Linked DNA regions of Homo sapiens: region 2 is linked to region 1. Evidence: fine-mapped expression QTL. A gene starts in region 1. The other region holds a variant in brackets. All regions are shown on one strand. Distances are from middle to middle. Region 1 holds the start of ANKDD1B (ankyrin repeat and death domain containing 1B). Region 2 overlaps ANKDD1B (ankyrin repeat and death domain containing 1B).

Region 1 (10,633 bases):
ATCAGGAAATCCTCACAAAAGCAAGCAGTAAAGAATCCAAATTTATGGCAGTGGACTTTCCCTCCGCTAAAACCCGGCACTTAAAGAACAAGTAAGAGCCAGGTTTTAGATAAGGCCTCATTGCCCAAGAGGGAGACGCACTACATTTCAAAACCAGTATAATGAAAATCCACACGCCTCTTTAGATTTTTAAATTTGGAAAAACAGAACCACAAAGGACATCATTGGCAAGAAAACAACCCAGATTGTATAGCAAAAAAATGTTCTGCCTTTCCAGAATGTGTGAGGCCAAACTGATCCACAGGCGACAATCCAGGACCAAGTCCGGGCCTGCAACCCTGACAGCTGGCTTTACTGCCCACCCACAGACTTTGAACAGATAGGCATGAAGATTCTGTGCACTCCCCTTCTTGGAAGAGGAATTAAAACACCCAGAGCCTCTTCCACTGTTTGACTCCACCTTTTAGCTTAAACACCCCGGGATTACCAACAAAGCAGCTCTCCCTTATCTCAGCCAGCACCATGATTTTTATTTTTATTATTATTTCAGATGTCCTGTGTAAATCCAAGCCATTACTGGAGAAGTCACTTGTCATATTTATGACTTCTACTCACATTGTTCACAACATTAATGTTAACCTTCTTTTCAAACAGCTTCTCCATAAGATCCAAATTATTGCTTTTAGCAGCATTCTGAAAGCTTCTCTCATTTGGGAGTACTGAAAGAAAGCAAAGCAAGCATGACTGAGGGAATTTAAGGAGGCCAAAGAGAAAGCATATTTCATAGGGCAAACCTTGTAACAACAGCTTTGAGTCTTTCACATTTTGCTGTTTTATTTAAGACATGGGAACTTCGCTTCAATATCTTACAAAACTGTAGTATCAAGATTTCATTTTCTCCTCATGCTGCAAGCGCTTTCACATCCTTAAAAATGTTCCTGGCCCCAAACAAAACATTATTCATGAGGACCACCCTGAAGTCAGTAACCTGGTATCTGGCTTAGAAGGTCAGAAGGCGGCCATAGACTTCCCAGGGGGCATTGTTTGTAAAAAACCTTGTACAAGATTAGGCAGGGAGGAGTCCAAATGCTCCTACAGCTTACAGAGATAAAACTGTTGTCTTCAGAACTCTATACCGAGGCCAGGCCTGCATGAAGATTTCAAAATGCAGCCCATCATACATACAGACACAAAGTTAAAGGGGATTAAAATGTTTTATTCTCATTTATATAAAAACACATAGAAGTAGATTGACATCTACTATAAACATCACATTTCACACACATATACACATTCATATGGTAGGCTTTATTAACTATCACAGAGAAGATTCCAGGGTTTATTGAGTTTTTTGTTATGTAGGGGAGTAGAGGGCTCTCAGAGGACAGCCCAACATAAGGGGTAAGACCAGAATTGAGGTTAAGTAGGAGTCAATAACATACCATCTCCAAACAGAAAGGACCGTAAGAGAGGTTTCTGTAGATGTGTTGTGGATTAGTTTCCTAAGGGTTTCCTTGTTTTTTAAATGGTACCATCATAACATTCAATGTTCCCCAAGTTTTTGCCGAAGCAAAGACCTTTCAGGATACTGCCAAGTCCAATCAAGGACCAACCAAGGAGTATCTTCTTGGGAAATATTGTTATGGGCTGAATTGTGTCCCTCCAAAATTCCTATGTTGAAGTCCTAACCCCAAGTACCTCAGAATGTTGACTATATTTGGAGATAGGGCCTTTAAAGAGGTAATTAAGGTAAAATGAGGTCATATAAATGGGCTCCAATCTGATAATGATTGGTGTCCCTATAAGAAGAGAGATTAGGACACACACACACACACACACACACACACACACACAGGGAAGACCAGGTGAAGGCAGGGAGAAGGTGGCCATCTATAAGCCAAGGAGAGAGGCCTAAGAAGAATTGAACTTTTCCAACATCTTGATGTTGGACTTGTAGCCTCCAGAACTGTGAGAAAATAATTGTCTGTGGTTTGAGCCATCCAGTCTGCTGTACTTTGTCGTGGCAGCCTGAGTAGACTCATGCAGATTCACATGTTCATTCTTTCTATTACCTGGATCCTTCTCTTCGTTCCTACCCCTACTCTTGTCACCATTCTAGGTGACTTCAACCTCCTCACAGATGATTAATCCAACACCTTGGCCTCTTAGTTCCCTGACTCTGTCACCTCTAATAATCTTCCCCAGATCTGACCTTAGCCATCAAATTTCAGAGACACATTCCTGAACTAATCATCCCTCAAACTGCACTACCTCTGAAATCTTGACTTCCAGAATCCTATTCTTTGACCACAACTTCTCATCCATTCAGCTCAGCTGCTCTAGTTCTCCAAGTCCAGAAATTCTGCAACCTTATGAAGTCCTCCAGTCCACAGTTCTAGCCCTTTTTCATATTCTTCATCTCTATGTCCTTACTTCCCTCCTTACCATGTTTAGATTCCATGGTGCCAGTCTGTTTTTGCTGCCATAACAAAATACCTGACACTAAGTAATTTTAAAAAAACAGAAATTTATTTTGCACATTCAGACCATAGCACATGGTCCACCTATGAAATCACTTCTATGCAAACACTTACCTCCCTCACCATTCTTTTCCTCCATTAGACTAGTTGGTCAGAATCCTAATTCTGAGATTAAATCCAACTGCTACTTGCTTTGTTTCTGTACCTGAACAGCTAAATGGTACTGGAGAAAAACACACAGCCATACTGTAGTAGACATTGCTAGTGTTCATCAATATCTGCTTCTTCTCTTCTACCTGGTCACATGTGTAAGCCCATAACCCAGCCTGGATAGTTGAGGTGTATCCAATGGACTGAAAGCACAAGTGATGGCATGTCACTTTGGGGCTGAGTCAGTGAAAAGCCTGTGTCACCCTCTAGGTCTCTTTTCCCTGCCTTATCAACACTGGAAGCCATGTGTTTAAATGAAGGGGTTACAAGATGGTGGTACCTCCATCAACTTGGTATTGGGACACAATTCTCCCTGGGTCTCTCACATTTCTGCACATCTTACAAGCAAAAGCACTGACTGGCTTTGCTCTTTACTACCTTTTCAAGGATGTTTGTATAGTGAAAAGCCTTGACAGACAGAGATAATATCTTCCTCTGGAGCAAAGGGCAGGTTTGCTTGCAGCCTTGGAAGAAAGCAATGGTAAGGCATGCTTACTGACTATTACAAAAGATTTGGGTTCCCTAAGCGCAGGATTTTTCTGTAACACAACCCACTGTGTGTGCAGGTGTCATTTGGCATCTTTATATCTCCCTGTGGGAATTGGGGCTTGGAGAACTGACACAAATGCTAACACTCTGGCTACTGCTACTGCTATGAGTAATGAAATTCATCAACTCTGATCCAGAAGTGTCTTCTGCCAGCATCTCTATCACCTAGCAAGCTAACTTGTGAGATTACAAGTAGGGTAAAATCTCAACCCCTTTATGATCCTTGACACCTGGGTTCCTGAGAGACTAAGAAGATGAGAGACCCTCGCCAACTTATTTTGGACATGCTACACGAACAAGAAATATATCTTTCTTTTAAATGTAAAGACAGGGTCTCGTTACGTGGTCCAGGCTGGTCTTGAATTCCTGGTCTCAAGTGATCCTCTCACCTGGCCTCCCAAAATGCTGGGATTATAGGTGTGAGCCACCACACCCAGTCAGAAATAGATCGTTTTTAAGTCCAGTCACTCAGATGTAGGAGTCATTTATTGCTGCAGGAAAAGCTTACTTTGTCCTGACTGATACACATGCTAACAGGTCTCTTAAATTCTTCCCCACTAATCTCAGCACGACTAGCTAGCCTCTACATTTCCCTAGTCTTCCCTTCTTCAACATGTCATATCCTTTCCTTTCTCCTCAAATATCTGAATTTACTAATCTACGTAATTTACTTCCTCCCACTACCATCACCTAATTCTCAGTTAATACCGTTGCCTCATAGTGAAAACAGAAGTAATAGGACACGAATTCCCACATCTTCCCACCTAGGTGAGTCTACCAACCTACCTTCATTTATATATGCAGGATGAAGCATCCCTGTACCTAGGAAAGGCCAACCTCTACACTTGGGCTCTGGATCCCATCCCCTTTTATCTTTTCAAGTGTTTCATATGTCAATCTCCTGGAAATTATCTCTTCTTTCCTCTAGATCACTTAATCTCTCTCCAGTGGATCACTCCCCTCAAAAAATACTGAGATGCCATAATACCCTATGCATAAAAAACCCTCCCTTGACCCCAGCTTCCTTTCCAACTGCTGCTGCATTTTTCAACTTTCCATTACCCCAAACTTAAGTATTCTATAATTGCTGTCTCCATTTCTTCATCTCACAGTCTTGTCTCAACCCATGCTAATCAGACATCTTTCCCACCCCTCTACTGAAACTGCTCTTGTTGAGGTCACTCCGCCTTGCCAAAACCCAGTCATCATACCTCCGTCATGTGCATTGAGCTCTTGGCAACTTTGACACAGAGGAACACACACTCCATGTAACATGTTCTTCTCTAGAGGTCTGGTAAACCAACTTTCGCTTTCTAGTCTTTTCTACTGGCTCTTTTTCCTTTGCTTGATCTCCAACTATTAGAATGCCCTAGGGTTTATATAAAACAAATAATCTGTTGATGTAGGCATGATTCCTCCATTTTACAGATGAGGAAACTGAGATCTTCAAAAGTTATACCACTTGCTCATGCTTTGTAAGTTATAGAATTGTCCCAGGCAGCCTGACTCCAACCACATTACCCTGTCTCATGGCCTTCACTGCACTTACCTTAAATTATCTTATTCATTTATTTGCGTACTTATTTTATTGTCTATCACCCCTCCACCACAACAGAATGTTCCACCAGAACAGGGGTTGTCTTGTTCTCTCCAACCCTACATCTAGAACATGCCTAGCAAATAGTTAAGCCCTTGAAAATAGTTCTAGAATGACTGAATGAACACTATATTGATGAATTGGTGTATAGCTTCCAAGCCTGGTTTAGGAAATAAGGCCGTCCCAGCCAGTAGGCTTGGATGGTGTGCCCCGTTAAGAGGCTTGAGTACTGGGAAGGCTGAGGTGGGAGGATCACCTGAGCCTGAGGAGGTCTGTGATTGCACTACTGCCTTCCAGCCTGTGCAACAGAGCAACAAGACCCTACACGCGGGGCGGAGGGCGGGGGCGGGGCGGAGGGCGGGGGGGGGCGGGGGCAGACTTAAATCGCTTTCAGCTTTCGAACTGCTTAACAGCTGCCTCAGTTTATGCTACACATTATTCCCAAGGCATAGATGATCCACTCCATGCTTTAAAAACTTAAGTGCAGAAAGATTAAGTGACTGACTTATTTAAAGTCAGACAATAAATCGGAGCATGAGTCACGATATAGGAGATAAGAGCACATGAAACTCTTATTTGCAAAAGGACTTAATCATTATTTTTAAAAGCCTCCTCCTTAATTCGGAAGAATAATACTGTCCTTCCACCCACAGTACATGGTGGGGGTGGATTCCAAAGCTGAAAACCAGCCAACAGGGAGTGCAGCGGTGCAGGCTGGGACTCGGGGTCCCAGGGCTGAGTCGCCTCGCCAGTTTCCCTCCTGCAGCGTCCGGAGGTGCTGCTCTGGGTACCTTCTCAAGTCCCTTCGACCCAGCCCGCCCCGCAGCCTGATTTTCTGAGACCTCGTCCCGGGACTCACGGAGCTCGTGTCCGGCAACTGCTGTGTCCTCCTCTCCAAGACCCTCCCGCTTCGGGATCCGGGACAGGCTCCTCCAAGGCAGGGCGGCCGCGCCCCACAGGTCTTCCCTGAGACCCTTGGCGGCCGCAGCAGCCCGGAGCAGCAGCCCCCCTGCCGTGGCCCCTTGGCCCCGGGCGCGCCCGGCGGGGTCCATAGTCTCCTCCGCGGGCCCTGAGCGCAGGGCCAGACCCAGACTCGGACCCAGATCCAGACCCAGACTCGGACACAGATCCAGACCCAGGCAGGCCCAGGGCGCGGGGGCTGGACGCAGGCAGGTCAGCCCGGCCGGAGCGCAGGATCGAGTCCGCTCTCTGTTGTGGCGGTTCGCTGGGCAACAAGCCCCTAGTTTCCAGCCCTGCCCTGACTTGGGCTGGCCTGGGATAATCCGCCCTCAGGTGTGGCGTGCACAGTGCTAAGGTTTGGTTCTCTGGAAAATAAAACATCCAGCGACCATCGAGAACGGGCCATGATGACAATGGCGGTTTTGTCGAATAGAAAAGGGGGAAATGTGGGGAAAAGAGAGAGAGATCAGATTGTTACCGTGTCTGTGTAGAAAGAAGTAGAAATAGGAGACTCCATATTGTTCTGTACTAAGAAAAATTCTTCCGCCTTGGGATGCTGTTAATCTATAACCTTACCCCCAACCCCGTTCTCTCTGCAACATGTGCTGTGTCAACTCAGGGTTAAGTGGATTAAGGGCGCTGCAAGATGTGCTTTGTTAAACAGATGCTTGAAGGCAGCATGCTCGTTAAGTCATCACCACTCCCTAATCTCAAGTACCCAGGGACACAAACACTGCGGAAGGCCGCAGGGACCTCTGCCTAGGAAAACCAGAGACCTTTGTTCACGTGTTTATCTGCTGATCTTCTCTCCACTATTATCCTATGACCCTGCCACATCCCCCTCTCCGAGAAACACCCAAGAATGATCAATAAATACTAAAAAAAAAAAAAAAAAGAATAAGCAGAGAAATTGGGGAGGGTATTCAAAGCTGAACAACTAATGGTCCAAGGATATCACTATCACTATCATTAACACATGCTTTAGTCACCAGGAACTGCCAATTTTACTTCTCAAATCTCTTAATTACATCTGCTTCTCCATTTTTATTTCCATTGCCATCATTGCTTGTCACTGAATTTATTGTAATAACTTCTTCATAAGAATTTATTGTAATACCTTCTTCATAAGAATTTGTTGTTAGATGGATTTATTGTCTGTTGCTACATTTCAGGCACAGAATTAAGCACCTTTTGCACAGCCTCACTTAATTCTGAGGTATGGTGTATTCTATTATTAGCCCCGTTTGATAGAAAAGGATTCTGAGGCTTGAAGACGTTGGTGGAAGAAACAGAACTTGCCCCTAACGAGCATGACTTCTAAGAATGTGTTGTCAAGGGCGTGACTCACTCACCTTGCTCTACAGCAGGGGGTCACTTTGCTCCATCCCCAGGCCAAATCCCGCTGCTGCCTGTTATTGTAAATAAAATTTGTTTTAACACATTAAAAAAAAAAATTCCTGCAAAATCTACAAGCCCCAATGAACTCCCAGCTCTACTCTACCACTTCTTTGTATAATTTTGAGAAATGTCAAGGTTGAATTTATAACTAACACTATAGGAACTTCAATATTAAATCATTTCTAAATGGGCTTCCAACATTTTCTTTTGAATAAAGTAAGACTTGATTTCTCATTTGAAGACCATGAATTTTAATCTTTCCTGGCGGATTCTTTTGAAAAGTGAAATAATACAGAAGCAAGTCAAATTCTGACCCCCCAAATAAACTTCAAATAAGAAAGGTAATCAGGTTTTCATTTATTTATTCTTCTTACAAATTTACAAAAGATGTATCATTTTAATGTAAATTATGTAATATCAATGTTCATTTCAAACTTGTCAGTTTTTCCCTTCAAATTATTGTGCACCAAATTTGAGGCATTAAATTCAAAACAATGTTTCCTAATCAATGAAAAAACAAACATGACAAAATATTATTTATTTTATCAGAACACCGCCCATAACCTCAAACTTTCCTCTTTTAAAAAAGGGAAATGGGCCTAATGTTTGTAATAGAGATATGATAAAAACAATAGCAGGTAAGTTGAATTGAGTATTATGCAGAAATATCAGACAATGTACTAATATGGAAAGTATAATATGTAAATGGAAAAACAGGGCACCAAATTATATGTATATGTAGCATGTTTACAAGTAAAATTCTAAAAATCAAAAGAAAATACCCACACAAAAGAAGGAATAATAGTGAAAACAGCAGCAGATCAATGGAAAGCATACAGCCAAGTACAGAAAAATCTCCCAGTCTGGGTAACAAAGTGAGACCCCCTCTCTACAAAAATTAGCCAGGCATGGTGGTGCATGCCTGTAGTCCCAGCTACTTGGGAGGCTGAGGTGGGAGGATGGCTTCAGCCTGGGAGGCAGAGGTTGCAATGAGCCAAGATTGTGCCACTGTGTGCCAGTCTGCGTGATAGAGCCAGACCCTATCTCAAAAAAAAAATTTTTTTTTAATATAAATAAAAAATAATTTTAAAAAAAGATCTGAATTGTGTTATCCAAGTTTGAAACTGCTTTCAAATTCTAAACCAAGAAATTTACTTTTAAAAAAATCCTCTTATCAATGACAGGAGAAAATGCATCATCATTTTATGCTATATAGCCTTATAATAGTATGTGGTACTTATCTTACTCTAACAGATGAGACAAAAACTCCAAAGCAGTGCATTATGTGAAACTTAGCCATAGCTGGACTTTATTTCCCTGACAGCTTGGGCTAAATAAGAAGCTATGAAGTATACTGTGGGAGGTATTTTCTTTTTCACTCTGTTTCAAATATCAGGTTAGTTCTCAAGCAGAATATTAATTCTAAGCGTGCTAATACATAAAAGCTTGCCCACATGATCTGGCCCTACTCATCTCTCTGATCTTGGGCCCTACAATTCTTCTCCATTCTTCATCCACTGTTTCCTGGTGGAGAGCCATCAGCTTCTATTTCCTCCCTTTGCCTAGAACTTCTCTCCCCCACCTCCACTTCCGAATTTTTAAAATAGTTTTGATCCTTCGTATCATTAAGGTTTCAGGTTAAATGTCACTTCCTCAGAGGAGCCTTCTCGGATCATCTTATTCTAAAAGTGTCCCCTACCTTCATGTTCCATTCCCTTATGCTGTTGTCTCTTTCCTTTGTAACACTTACCACTGAAATGTCTATTTGTTTAGTGTCGGTTTCCACAACTAGAATGTAAACTTCATAAATACAGTGATTTTTAAAACTTTGTTGGGCCAGGCGTGGTGTCTCATGCCTATAATCCCAGCAATTTGAGAGGCCGAAGTGGGAGGATGGCTTGAGGCCAGGAGTTTGAGGCCAACCTGGGCAACTTAGTGAGACTCCAGTCTCCACAAAAAATTTAAAAATTAGCTGGTGGTGGTGGGGCAGACCTGTAGTCTTAGCTACTTGGGAAGCTGAGATGGGAGTATGGCCTGAGCCACGGAGGTCAAGGCTGCAGCAAGCTGTTATCATGTCACTGCATTCCAACCTGGGTGACAGAGCAAGACTCTGTCTCAAAAAAAAAAAAAATTAATTAAGTTTCTTACTGCATCTCCAGTGGCTAAAACAGTACCCGACCTGCAATAAGTATTTGTCAAATAAATATGGAATGCAATTTAGCCATGGGAACAGTAACTTGTCTTTGAGTCCTGAAAGCTTTAAGTTTTTCCCCTAAAGGTCTAGACTAAAAAAATATGTTCAATTCTGAAGTAAACCTTTAAAACCAGGTCCTGTTCAAGGATTCCATATTTTTAAAAACATCTTCCTAGATTTCTCTTTGCCCTCCTCTACCAGACGATTTCTCCCTAGACTCCCACTTTGTATATTCATCTATTATAGCCCTCCCTACATTGAATAGAAACTGTCCCTGGGGTGGCTCTCCATTTTTTGAGGACAAACATGTCTTAATAATCTTTATGTCCTTTATCAGCTAGGATTCAGCTATAATTAATAGGAAAACCCAAGTAACTATGGCTTAAACAATTTTTTAATTTGTTTCTTGTGAAAGTCTCAAAGTGTGCAGGCCAGTGCTGATATGTCTCTGTTTTACAAAGCCCCAAGAATCAGCCCCTGCAGCCCACTACTCTACCATCCCCCTGTGCAACCCTTATGTTCAGGTGTAAACGGCAGCATCTGCTTCCAGGCAGCAGGATGGAACAGAGAAATAGAAAGAAGAGGCAAACAGAATGCTACAGCTGCAAGAAAGGAAGGTTCCCAGAAGCAACCACACACAGTACTTCCTTTTTTTTTTTTTTTTTTTGAGACAAGGTCTCGCTTTGTCACCCAGGTTGGAGTGCAGTGGTGCAATCTCAGCTCACTGCAACCTCCGTCTCCCGGGTTCAAGCGATTCTCTTGCCTCAGCCTCCTGAGTAGCTGGGATCACAAGTGTGTGCCACCACGCCCAGCTACTTTTTTGTATTTTGAGTAGAGACGGGGTTTCACCATCTTGGCCAGGCTGGTCTCGAACTCCTGACCTCAGGTGATCCACCCGCCTTGGCCTCCCAAAGTGCTGAGATTACAGGCGTGAGACACCGCACCCGGCCAGTACTTCCTTTTATATCCCATTAGTCAAAACTCAGTCACATGGCTACCCCTAGCTGGGAGGGTGTGAGCTTCAAGGATGGGAGATACATTGTAGTCATCAATTCTGTAACACCTATTTTTCACATTATCACATCTTTTTAATTGAGATACTAAGTTGTCTGCCTGAATTGAAGTTGAGTTCTTCCATAGAGGATTTGCATATGCTTCTGCCAGTCACTAGGGGCAATACTAACCTCACTTTAATTACATTTTCTGCTTGAGCTCTTTAGGATGATACCATTTGTGTGAATTCAG
Region 2 (10,633 bases), 64 kb before region 1:
ATGTGGCTTAAAATGCTAGAATTTTTATTTTTATAGCATTTTTTAAAGTCAGCTAAGCTGATAAATTTAATGAACTCCAACATGATTGGTACCAGTAAGTGGTCATTTAATTTGCAGAGAATGATACATACCTAATGCATTATTTTATCCTAAAACATAAATATGTATTAATTTGCTGGTTTTAAATGTGGAGCCAAACTGAATGTGGGGTCAAAGATTGTAATTGTCATCTTTTTAATATAAACCACACCCAATATATTTTCTATGATCTCCAATTTCAGTTTCTGTAAAGCATGAACCTAACAAAACTTTCCAAACAATCTGATTAGAGAATCCTTCTAGGTTTTTCTTTCCTCCCCCTGATTAGTAGCAACTTTTTTCTAATAATTTATCTTTATGAATTATTTCTAAATTGTCCTTATGCATTTTCAACTTTTTCATCAATTTATACAATTTTTAATACATTAAATAAACATTAACAAGTACAAGTGACAAACCATCTGAAAACAAGCAGCCGACAGTAAACATGCGAGCCATTTAAGACAACTTCTATTTAATTCAATGAGCGTATAGAGATTTCTTTTAGAAGTCTTTTAGAAGTCATTTTATTTACAGGAGTATATATTTTCAAATTATTGAAGGCATTCTAAAGCAATTCTGAGCTGGGTTGAATGAAGCTTATCATCTATGAGCATTTTTCCTGCTACTCTAATTTTCTTCAGTCCAGACTTCTCTAGTTTTTCATTCACACCTGAAGCTCCAGGTGAGAATCATGGCTACTGAGAGGACACCCCTCAAGCGTGATTGGGCAGGAGGAAAGTTACAAACTCAATTGTACTTATTTCCACATTTTGGCAAAGAATATTCCTGCCAGCAATTAGTTTTCTATTTTGAAATAGCATTTAAGCATCTTCAGGAGTTTGTAAAATCTTTTTTGTCCCTTATTGTAATAAGTAATAGGACAAAGTTTCCCTCAGGCCAGAAGCATGAATTTAGTCCACAAAAACATATTTGTAAATATTTTTAAATCTGAGATTTAGTTTTTCAATTTCATAAGATCCATAGAAGTTTATGGTTTAAAAAGCCAAATCATTTTTACAAGGACTATAGTGAGAAACAGTCTTCTAAATTCCTCTCCCTAACTCTGTTAGCTGTTTCTTCTGTTTCCATTTTTTCCTAAATAGTATGTTTATATCATTATTTCTACATTTATTAATTTCAAACATTATCTGTTAACTTATTACAGATAAGAGGACTTGGCCTCCTGATGCCACCTTATTCCTTCTCTCTCTCTTCACTTTCCTTATCCTCCCTGTATGTTATAGATATTCCCATTTCAGATTAAATCATTTATGATTACTAATATAGCTAAGCCATGAATGTGTACTATGACTACATTTCCTTTCTGGTATAATGTTTTGTTCTTAGAATTAATTGCTTCATTTTTATCTTCGGTTTTCTATCCAACTATAGTGAATTATTTCCAAACTCTCCAAGGATTACAAAACCCCACTGAATGCTGTTTTCCATAGGGTCTTCCAAAAACATCAATACTCTGTCATTTTAATTTTCCCAGAGACATCTCTCCTGAAGCCCACTCTCTTCCCATTTCAGTATACAGCTGTGACTGTGTGTAGCTAGATGCAGCTATATGGAGAATCACAGATGAACTATAATAATCGGGAAAAGATTGATACTTAATAAATGCCTTTGGAAAAACTGTTTAGAGAAAAAATGAATTTAGATTAATACTTCACACTGGAATTTCAAATGTTTTAATAAGCTAAGCCAAAATAAGTAAATGTTATAAGAATATAACTACCTCAGCTGTCCAAAGCTGGTTTTGGTTTCATCATGGAAGCAAGAGGAAATTAATGACAGGATTAACCACAACTTAAAAAAATGGATGTGCATTGAAAATTAAGACAAATACATGAAATGGGGAAATCGTTTACACTCTGAGATAAGTATCTATAATTATTAAATGAGTTTAGTACTCGTCAGGAACTATTAAATTTAAATATTAATATCCTTTCAATTCTTAGCAAATAAGATGAATAGTTGACAAAATGGAATACAAATATGAAACATTAATAAAGAACCACAACTTGAATAGTAGATTTCACCTCAGACTTAAACAGGCGGCTGTGTAATTGATTGACAGTGGAAAAATAGTCCACTTACGTGTTATTCCTGCTGTAAATATTTTTCTGGAGTATTATCCAGCGATAAGCAGCAAAAGCTATAAAAGCTGATAATACTTTTTGATATGATCGTTCCATTGTTTGCAATATATTTTTATTATACAGAAGTAACTCTCAAAAGAGGATTTTTCTTTTGCAAAATGTGCTAAATGTAATAGAAAAAGAAAGACAAAGTAGTATGTTGGTATAAAAACCATCTCATTAAGAACTATAGCAGGTCTCTGTATTACCTCGTAAAAAAAAGTATATTAATAAAATGAGAAGGAAAAAAGGCAGAACACAGAAGCATATGTGTAATGATAATATTAATTATGCTTAAGGATCAAAGAGTCCATAAAACAGATTAATGGTTTCCAGAGGTTAAGGATGGTTGGGGAAGGAACAGAGAGATGGATATGACTGTCAAGGGTGGCACGAGGGAGATCTTCGTGGTGATGAGTATTCTGTATCTTGATTGAGTGATAGTTAACAGGAACTTAGGTGATAAAATGACAGAGATCTATACACAGGCATTATCTCATGGTGAGCTTCCTGGTTTTGACTTTGTTATATTCTAATTATGTCAGATGTAACCATGGCAGGAAACTGGGTGAAGAGCACACAGTACTTTTCAATATGATCTCTGTGTCTTTCTATAAATCTATCATTTAAAAAAAAAAAGTTGGTTTTTTAAGTTTCTAAAATCTTATAAAATCGTTGGCATACTCAGGTTAAAGGGATATTTTGGGGTGTTCAGTTTTGTTTTGCTTTTCGTCTTGTGATTTTGTTTTTTCCATGTTAAAGTTGGTTGAACATACAGTTATTTTAAGTGCCTGTGTATTCTTCATAATTTATGGAATCAATAGATTTTGCTGTGGATTTTCTGCCACCTTGTTACTTCTTTTATTTTTTTTTCTTCTTAGTATGTGCCAAGAGTTGTAACCTCTGCACAACAGAAAGCAGGAAGAACTATTACAGCCCGGATCACAGGAAGATGTGATTTTGCTTCAAAAAATAGAATTAGCAGCAGTTTAGCTATAATGGGAGTTTCTCCTCCCATGAGCTCAGTTGTTGTGGAAAAACATCATCCAGTCACAGTGGTGAGTCCACATTTGATGACCTTTTGTCAAAAAGTCTTTTTCCTGAGAGTTCATAGACTAGTAAACACTTACATAACATGTTGAGAAGATAAAAATTTATGATGACTGGTACTTGTTCTGCCTTTTCCTGTTACAGTTTTTTTTTTTTTTTTAATATATATACTTGTTTTTCTCAAACCTGCTATAAATCTACGTTTCTGCTGTTGGGAAATTAATTTCAGAAACATCGTTTCTTCCAAACTGTAAAAATTATAAAATACTAAAAGTAATCCAGTGTGTTTGTGGTCAAAAGAGTAAAATATGTAAATGCTTTATTATCAGTTTAAAAAGAGACAAAAATTGTTCACTCACTAGCTGCTCATGTAGCAGATATTTGATTACAAGAAAACTCCCCTACATTTATAGTTTTTAATTTTTGGTCCTTTTTTAAAAAAAGTCTTCCCCTTTTTTCAGTACAATTGTCAGCATGTTTTTAGTTTAACAAAATTCAACTTGCAGTAAATGCATGTGATATAAAGAAGGTGCATTGAATTTGAAGCAAAAATTTTAAAACCCGAGTTAGTGCTTCAGCTTTGCTACTTGTTGGCTTTGTGATATATACAAATCAAGTAAAATATTTGAGCCTCCACTTTCTCTTCTGTAAAATGGGGTTAATAAAAATAGTTAGCTCCTTGGGTTATTGTTAGGATTCAAGATTAAATGAGATAATGTGAAAATTAAACGAGATGTATTAAGGCATTTTATAAACTATAAAACCATAAGCAAATTTAACTTACTGAAAGTTACTAGAAAAAGATACATGAGATATCTCTGAATTATTTCCTACAAATGTGTACGAATCAACAATTATCTCAAAAAGTATAATAAGAGTGATAAGAACATCCCTAAAGAAAAACAAGGATTTATTTATTTATTTATTTATTTATTTTTTATTTATTTTTTTTTTTGAGACAGAGTTTCTCTCTTGTCTCCCAGGCTAGATAGAGTGCAATGGCGCAATGTTGGCGCACTGCAATCTCCGCCCCCTGGGTTCAAACAATTCTCCTGCCTCAGCCTCCCGAGTAGCTGGGATTACAGGCACCCGCCACCACCCCCAGCTGATTTCAGGGACTGATTTTAAAAGAGAATGCCCTCTATAAATTCTCAGCATCGGACAACGTTCCTGTGTACTTTCTAAGTATTAGCAAAAAAAAAGTATATGGAATGATTTTAAATCCTTTTTTCCCGAGTACTAGCTGGGCACTAGATGATTAAATGAAGACAAGCTGGATTGATTTGAACTGAACTTCAGGTGAAGTGGGACCTTAGCGAGGTGGAAGGCTGGAGATAGAAGCACCAAGTCCAGATAGAGACATGGAGATGACAGAGGATTTATTTTAGAATTATCTTAGGTTTCATGTTTCATAAGTTGGACAGACTCTGAAAGTTCGTAGAAGACTTTTCTATATATTTTTGAATATGGAAGACAAGTTATCAAAAATGAGAAGAAATAAACCCACTTCTGTTTTTTCAGATGTAGAAAATGTATAGAGATGGTGAGAGACTGTCCATTTGTGAGGTAAAGAAGGTGTAAAGAGAGCACATGTGTGTTTATTTTTTATTAGACAAGCTTTTGTTTTGTAGTAATGATGGGAATTCATATTTTACAGAAGAAAAATCAAAGTACTAAACATTTAGAACCCTTGTTTCTGATACTTATCTCCCATGCTGCCCTCCCTTTATTCAGTATGTGCATTTCTTACCCACTAACTGTGTATGAACCAGATAGCCATCAGCTGCCTGGATTATGTGACAGACACAGTGGCAGTCATTTGTACTGTATTTCTTTTCACCCTGGGAATCAAGATCTAAATCTACCAGAAATAGTTATTACTAAAAAACCAAGGATGCGATTTGTGACACTGTAGCCTCATCTGCTGGGTAACTGCATGCTTCTAGGGCCACTTCATTCTCTGTCATATTTTGTGTATCATAATTTCAGTGGCTACTTTATTTCTACAGTTCCTCTTGCCCATCCTCCTCAAGGAGAAAGCCTTTTTGGCAGGCTCAGGTTAGTGGCTGGCAACTAATTAGGTGACTGGCAACTAAAATTTCTTATCTGTTGCAAGAGTATCTCCTATTTATAATGGTTATCCAGTTGTTTATGTACAAATAAACGTTTTTATAAGATACTTTAAGAAAAGAAGTTATTTTTCTTTAAAAAGGAGTTCTGTTCTTTTTAAAATGGAATCTGACAGGATCTTTTGTTTTTAAGAAGTTTCATTCTTTTTTTAAGCAAAAACTACAGCTTGGAGTTTTTTAAATACATAGTGAATGTTTTGACCAAATACATGTAATTTTACTTAAACTATTTTAACAATGACTTTTCTAAGTGGAAGACCCTAATAGAAATTGACATGTCCTAGTCAGTGATATGGACTGAGAACTTGATAACAAATCCCACTGCTGGCTACTAAGAAGCTTTATCGGGTTTAATAGGGAAAAGCCTTGTACTGATACATATTGTTCATGTTTACATGTAAATGTGTACTTGTATACATAGTGTGTACTTACATGCATTACATGCATATTATGTGTGTCAAGTAAGTCACGTGTGTCCTGACTTTAATGACTCAGTGCTCATGTCTGAGGTGTTCCTTTGAGCTCTGAGGTGATGTGCATAAAAGTTTTAGTCTGCTCCCAGGTGAACCAGGTTAAATATGAGGGCTCTGGTTTAAAGCAAGGACCAGACTGCATCCTGAGGGCTTC[C/T]GTGTGCCCCTGGGATTGTGAGATAATCACATCCACATACTAACAGTCAAGTAGAGAGAAGGAAGTTGGATGGAATGAGGGGAGGACTCAGGGCTGACCCCTCTTCCAGACACCACAGAGTTTCTCTCTGTATACAAAGCCTCTGTACACATTACAAGATTCCACTTGGCCCTGTTGGAGGAATGGCTGCCGTGGCTTTCTTAATGAGCCTTGTGGATATAGCTCTGATATTACACTGTGGGTGTTGAACATGTCAGTCAGACTGGGTAGGGGTTCCTTACAGACAAAGGCCTCATCTAATTAACAGCTGCTTCACTCCACTCATTGCTTCTTTCTACTGGATCTTAACAAATGTTTATTGGGTTAAATTATAGATGATAGATGATGAAATGATACATAGTATACATAATCTTGGGATATTATTAAAGCAGAATTTTGTCTTTTCAGCAAACCATTCCTCAAGCAACTGCAGCAAAATATCCCCGGACCATTCATCCTGAAAGTAGTACCTCAGCTTCCAGATCACTTGGAACCAGATCAGCTCACACCCAGTCTCTCACAAGTGTTCATTCCATAAAAGTGGTTGACTAAAGTGAATATGTCCATAGTGGGGTCTTTTAATCCCTCTGGTCTTACCAAGGGTTAGAAGTCTTTTGGTTTTAACTTTTCCATATTGTTAGAACATCATGGAGACATCATGTTCATCTGTTCAAAATTACAAGAGGCTTTTTCAAGCTCTACCATGCTTTGTAACTATATGTAGAAATTATTTTAATGTTATTTTTTATTTAAGCAATTAAGTAAAACTTTTTTAAATTAAAAAAGAAACTGGACTTTATTTCTTTAATATGTTTAGCCTGTTGCTGATTACAGCATCAAAATATATAAATTTATTTTCACTATTTATAAAACACTAAATCATTTCCAATATTACACAGCTGTAATTCACTCAAAGTGTTGAGAGGGAACCTTACTAAAAACAAAGTATTAGAACTAGTGGAAACTAGGATATTTTTATTTTTAATTTAAAAAAGACCAAGTGTAATAATGATTTTTTTTTTTTTTTTTTTTGAGACAGAGTCTCGCTCTGTCACCCAGGTTGGAATGCAATGGTGTGACCTCGGCTCACTGCCTCCTCCTCCCATGTTCAAGCAATTCTCCTGCCCCAGCCTCCCGAGTATCTGGGATTACAAGTGCCAGCCACCATGCCCGGCTAATTTTTGTATCTTTTTTTAGTAGAGACAAGGTTTCATCATGTTGGCCAGGCTGGTCCCGAATTCCTGACCTCAAGTGATCCGCCCGCCTGAGCCTCCCAAAGTGCTGGGATTACAGGCATGAGCCACCACGCGCGGCCCCGTTTTTTGTGGCTTTAACATGTTAGTCTTCATTTTTCCAGGACTCTAACAACAGTTGAAAATAGACGGAAACGGCAACACCTATGAATCATTTTTTAATGCCAAAAGGGAAAACATTTGTAATACTAGCACTAGAGTTACAGAAGTATCAGAAATTTCCTGTTAGAATGAGCCTGTTTCTGGTGTTCTTTCTCGCCTTATTATTTGAAACTCTGCAGCACTGAACCTACCTTGTTCTCCCCGAACATCTAAACACTGTTCTGTGGTGGCGTAGCCCTGAGCAACTCAGCAAACCTAGGCCTGGGCAGAAATTTTTCAATGGCTGGCCAATACAAAGAAACCATCTGGGCAGAACTGATTTAGGTGAACAAGACTTGGCTTCTAATGGTTTCATTGCTGACTGATTGTGTGGGCCAGACAATTAAATGAATCTCTGGATCCTCATCTGTGAAATAAGAATAAAATCTACCTACTATTTCACAGTACTTATACATAAAAATGAACAGGTTCTAAAGAGTTTGTCCAGGACCTCAATTTCCATCTCTTTTAACAGAGTGGATGGAGTTAATCATCTGAAGCCTCTTCTAATTTGAATATAAGTTCTCTGCACTAATTTTTATTATAGGAAATAGGTTTTCTTGCTGCCTCACATTGTTCACAGGACATCAGAGAATAAATGTGATATAGGCAAATAGAATCCTAAGGCCTTTCTGAATTACTAGGCTGTTTCTTAAAGGGTATTAGATATTTACACAACACTTGTTCTGGATTCTGGCCCAGCTACCATTGTGGTAAACAAACAGCTCCACCCCTCATGGTCTTCAGCAAGCTTTTCATGAACACAAACCACAAGCACCTCATCTCGTGCCCTTTCCATGTGTGTGCTCTTCCCGGGCTTCCCCGTTCACTCCCAGTTGAGTCAGGATAGTGCAGGCTCCACTGGGGAGCCCACTCATGCAACCCAGAATTAATACTTGGCATTATGGTAAACAGACCAATTCTTCCTTCCTTCTCCCTGTATGAATTGTCCTGAGATGCATTAGTATATCATGTCTCTCAGAATAGAGTAGCCCAAGATTAAATAATCAGTTATGCTTGTACCAAGTGATGGCCACTTAGGTAATTCGCTTTGTTCTTGCTCTCCCTCCTCCCTAGACAACTCCCCTTTCTCCTCCGCTCCTTCCCCGGATGTACACTTCTGAAAAAGTTGTTGCACACAAACTTCGGTCTTAGACAAGCTCTACTTTTTGAGGAATCTAGACTACAACTAGGAATGGTTTTCAGTATCCAAGCCAAAACAATATGGACAAACTGAAGTGAATATTATGAATGTTGTGATTAAGAATATTATAAACATATTTTTAAGCTTTAAGCTCTAGAAATGTATGTTGTCTAAAGCACCAAGCAATTAGTGTTGGCCTAAGTTAATGTAAATTCAACAGTTTAACACTTGACACAGTTATAGTATATATTCATATTTGTTTATTTTTGCATAAAGAGGTTACCCCAATCTGGTGGGGAGCAGTAATAGAGAAAGAGAGGTCAGTGGAAACTGGCCATACTGAAGAACAGATGGGACAATACTTCTTCTCAATATGTTTTTGAAAAACGTTTTGGAATCATGTGAATCTATTACCTGTTTTAAACATTCATAAGATTAAGTGGGCCATTTATAATCAGTATGAGACAAAGACATAAAACTATAAATTCATGATAGAATAACTGGATTGAAATTGCTTATGGTTTTAGTATGTGCCTTGTAAATTTAGAGTCAGAATCTGAGAATGGAGAGTCTTAAATTCCAATGAATAGGTGCACATAAACTGACACTCAATTTTACATTTATTTCATAACTCTTAGATTACAAAAATAATGCATGTTCTTTGTGAAAAAAAGAATGGAATGTACCCAAAAGTACAAAGAAAATAATCATCTGTAATTACATCACCAAGAGATTTAAAAAAAAAAAAAAATGGTGTACATACTTCTGGTCTTTCCTAAGTAATATATTACACAAAATGTGTGATTTAAAGTCAACAATGACTATAAATTCCAAACCCAGTTTCTCTTACTGAAAGAGAAATAGCAGTTGATTTCCGTACTATGGGCGTGAGGCTACACAGGCATTTTCCCTTCATCTTCATTCCAACCCTATGGATTAAATAGACATCTCTCCCAGTTTATAGAGAAGGAAACTGAAGATCTAAGAACGTAAACAACATTAACATGCCCAAAGGTTCACATCTAATAAGTGGCAAAACCAAGTTCAAAACCATATTTGTCTATTATAAAAACCCTTGTTTTTTTACTGTACCATGATGCTGCTCCCATGAGTTTTTTAAAAAAACATGACATACAAAACCGTCCTAGATTATCTTATTACATGGATTACATCAAATGATTGATAGAAATGGGAAAATCACATACAACTTGCCCTCAGCAAAAAAAACTATATTTGACTTTTTAGTGGTTGAAAAGTATCATGGTATTACTCTTCTTTCATCTGTTAGAGTTCCCTGTCACCACCATCATCATAGTTGAAAATCAGTGCTACTGCTAGAAGAAATTTATGGCATTAAAAGAACTGAATGCTGAGTGGAAAATCATGTAAATACAATTTCTTTAGGCATTTATGAAACTACACATTTCTTGGAGTTTGAGTCAGTTTTGCTTTTGAAATGACGAGTCTTTTCTGGAAAAAATAAGATAACATTTATGAATACCTAAAATTTTTAAAGCACTGATTGTCTACCAGGCACTATTATTCATTAAATCCCACAACAGCCCTTTGAAGTAAACATTTTTATTTTCTTTCCTAGTTAATAAATGAGAAGGTTGTCACAGGAAGGTCATAGAACTTGCTCGAGGTTTACAACCAGTCAGTCAGCTTTGGAGTTCAAGAGTGAGCTCACACAGCCTTGCGTCAGAACACATACCCTTAGCCAGTTCAGTGGACTGCATCTTCATCTTCTCTAAGAGTTCTTATGGAACCTCTTTCATAGGAAGAATACATTTAACCCTTTTCCCATTTAGAAAAAAAAGTGCAGCTCACTGCCAGCACTTCTTCAATTTTACATAAATACGCTCTTTGAGGCTGAAGCAAATCTGATTTTCATTGTGAAAAACAAATATACAAACTTCTTGGAGTTATTTCTAAACAGAACTAACATCAGAATAGTCTGAATCATCCGAATCATCAATTTCTGAAAAATTGGATTCATGGAATGAATCTTTGGCCAACAATTGT

The links. PIP is the estimated chance that this variant, and not a neighbour inherited with it, causes the effect.
Region 2: its variant is fine-mapped to the expression of ANKDD1B in whole blood (TOPMed, PIP above 0.99). The same link has a PIP of 0.9 or more in esophagus muscle and sun-exposed skin.

Annotation. Positions count from the first base shown.
Region 1 is chr5:75,606,890-75,617,522 of GRCh38, reverse strand. ANKDD1B (ankyrin repeat and death domain containing 1B) reads right to left here and starts at 6,070. Exons shown (of 14, transcript NM_001276713.2): 1 at 5,696-6,070; 2 at 616-719. The coding sequence starts at 5,888. It overlaps POLK (DNA polymerase kappa), which reads right to left. Exons shown (of 15, transcript NM_016218.6): 15 at 7,532-10,633. RefSeq lists enhancers at 4,963-5,769, 5,770-6,576, 6,577-7,384.
Region 2 is chr5:75,670,424-75,681,056 of GRCh38, reverse strand. ANKDD1B (ankyrin repeat and death domain containing 1B) reads right to left here. Exons shown (of 14, transcript NM_001276713.2): 14 at 9,211-10,078. The coding sequence ends at 10,017. It overlaps POC5 (POC5 centriolar protein), which reads left to right. Exons shown (of 12, transcript NM_001099271.2): 11 at 3,107-3,283; 12 at 6,479-6,933. The coding sequence ends at 6,622. Among named protein-coding and RNA genes, the nearest start is that of POC5, 42 kb to the left of the region's middle. The variant C/T (reference allele first, on the strand shown) is at 6,032.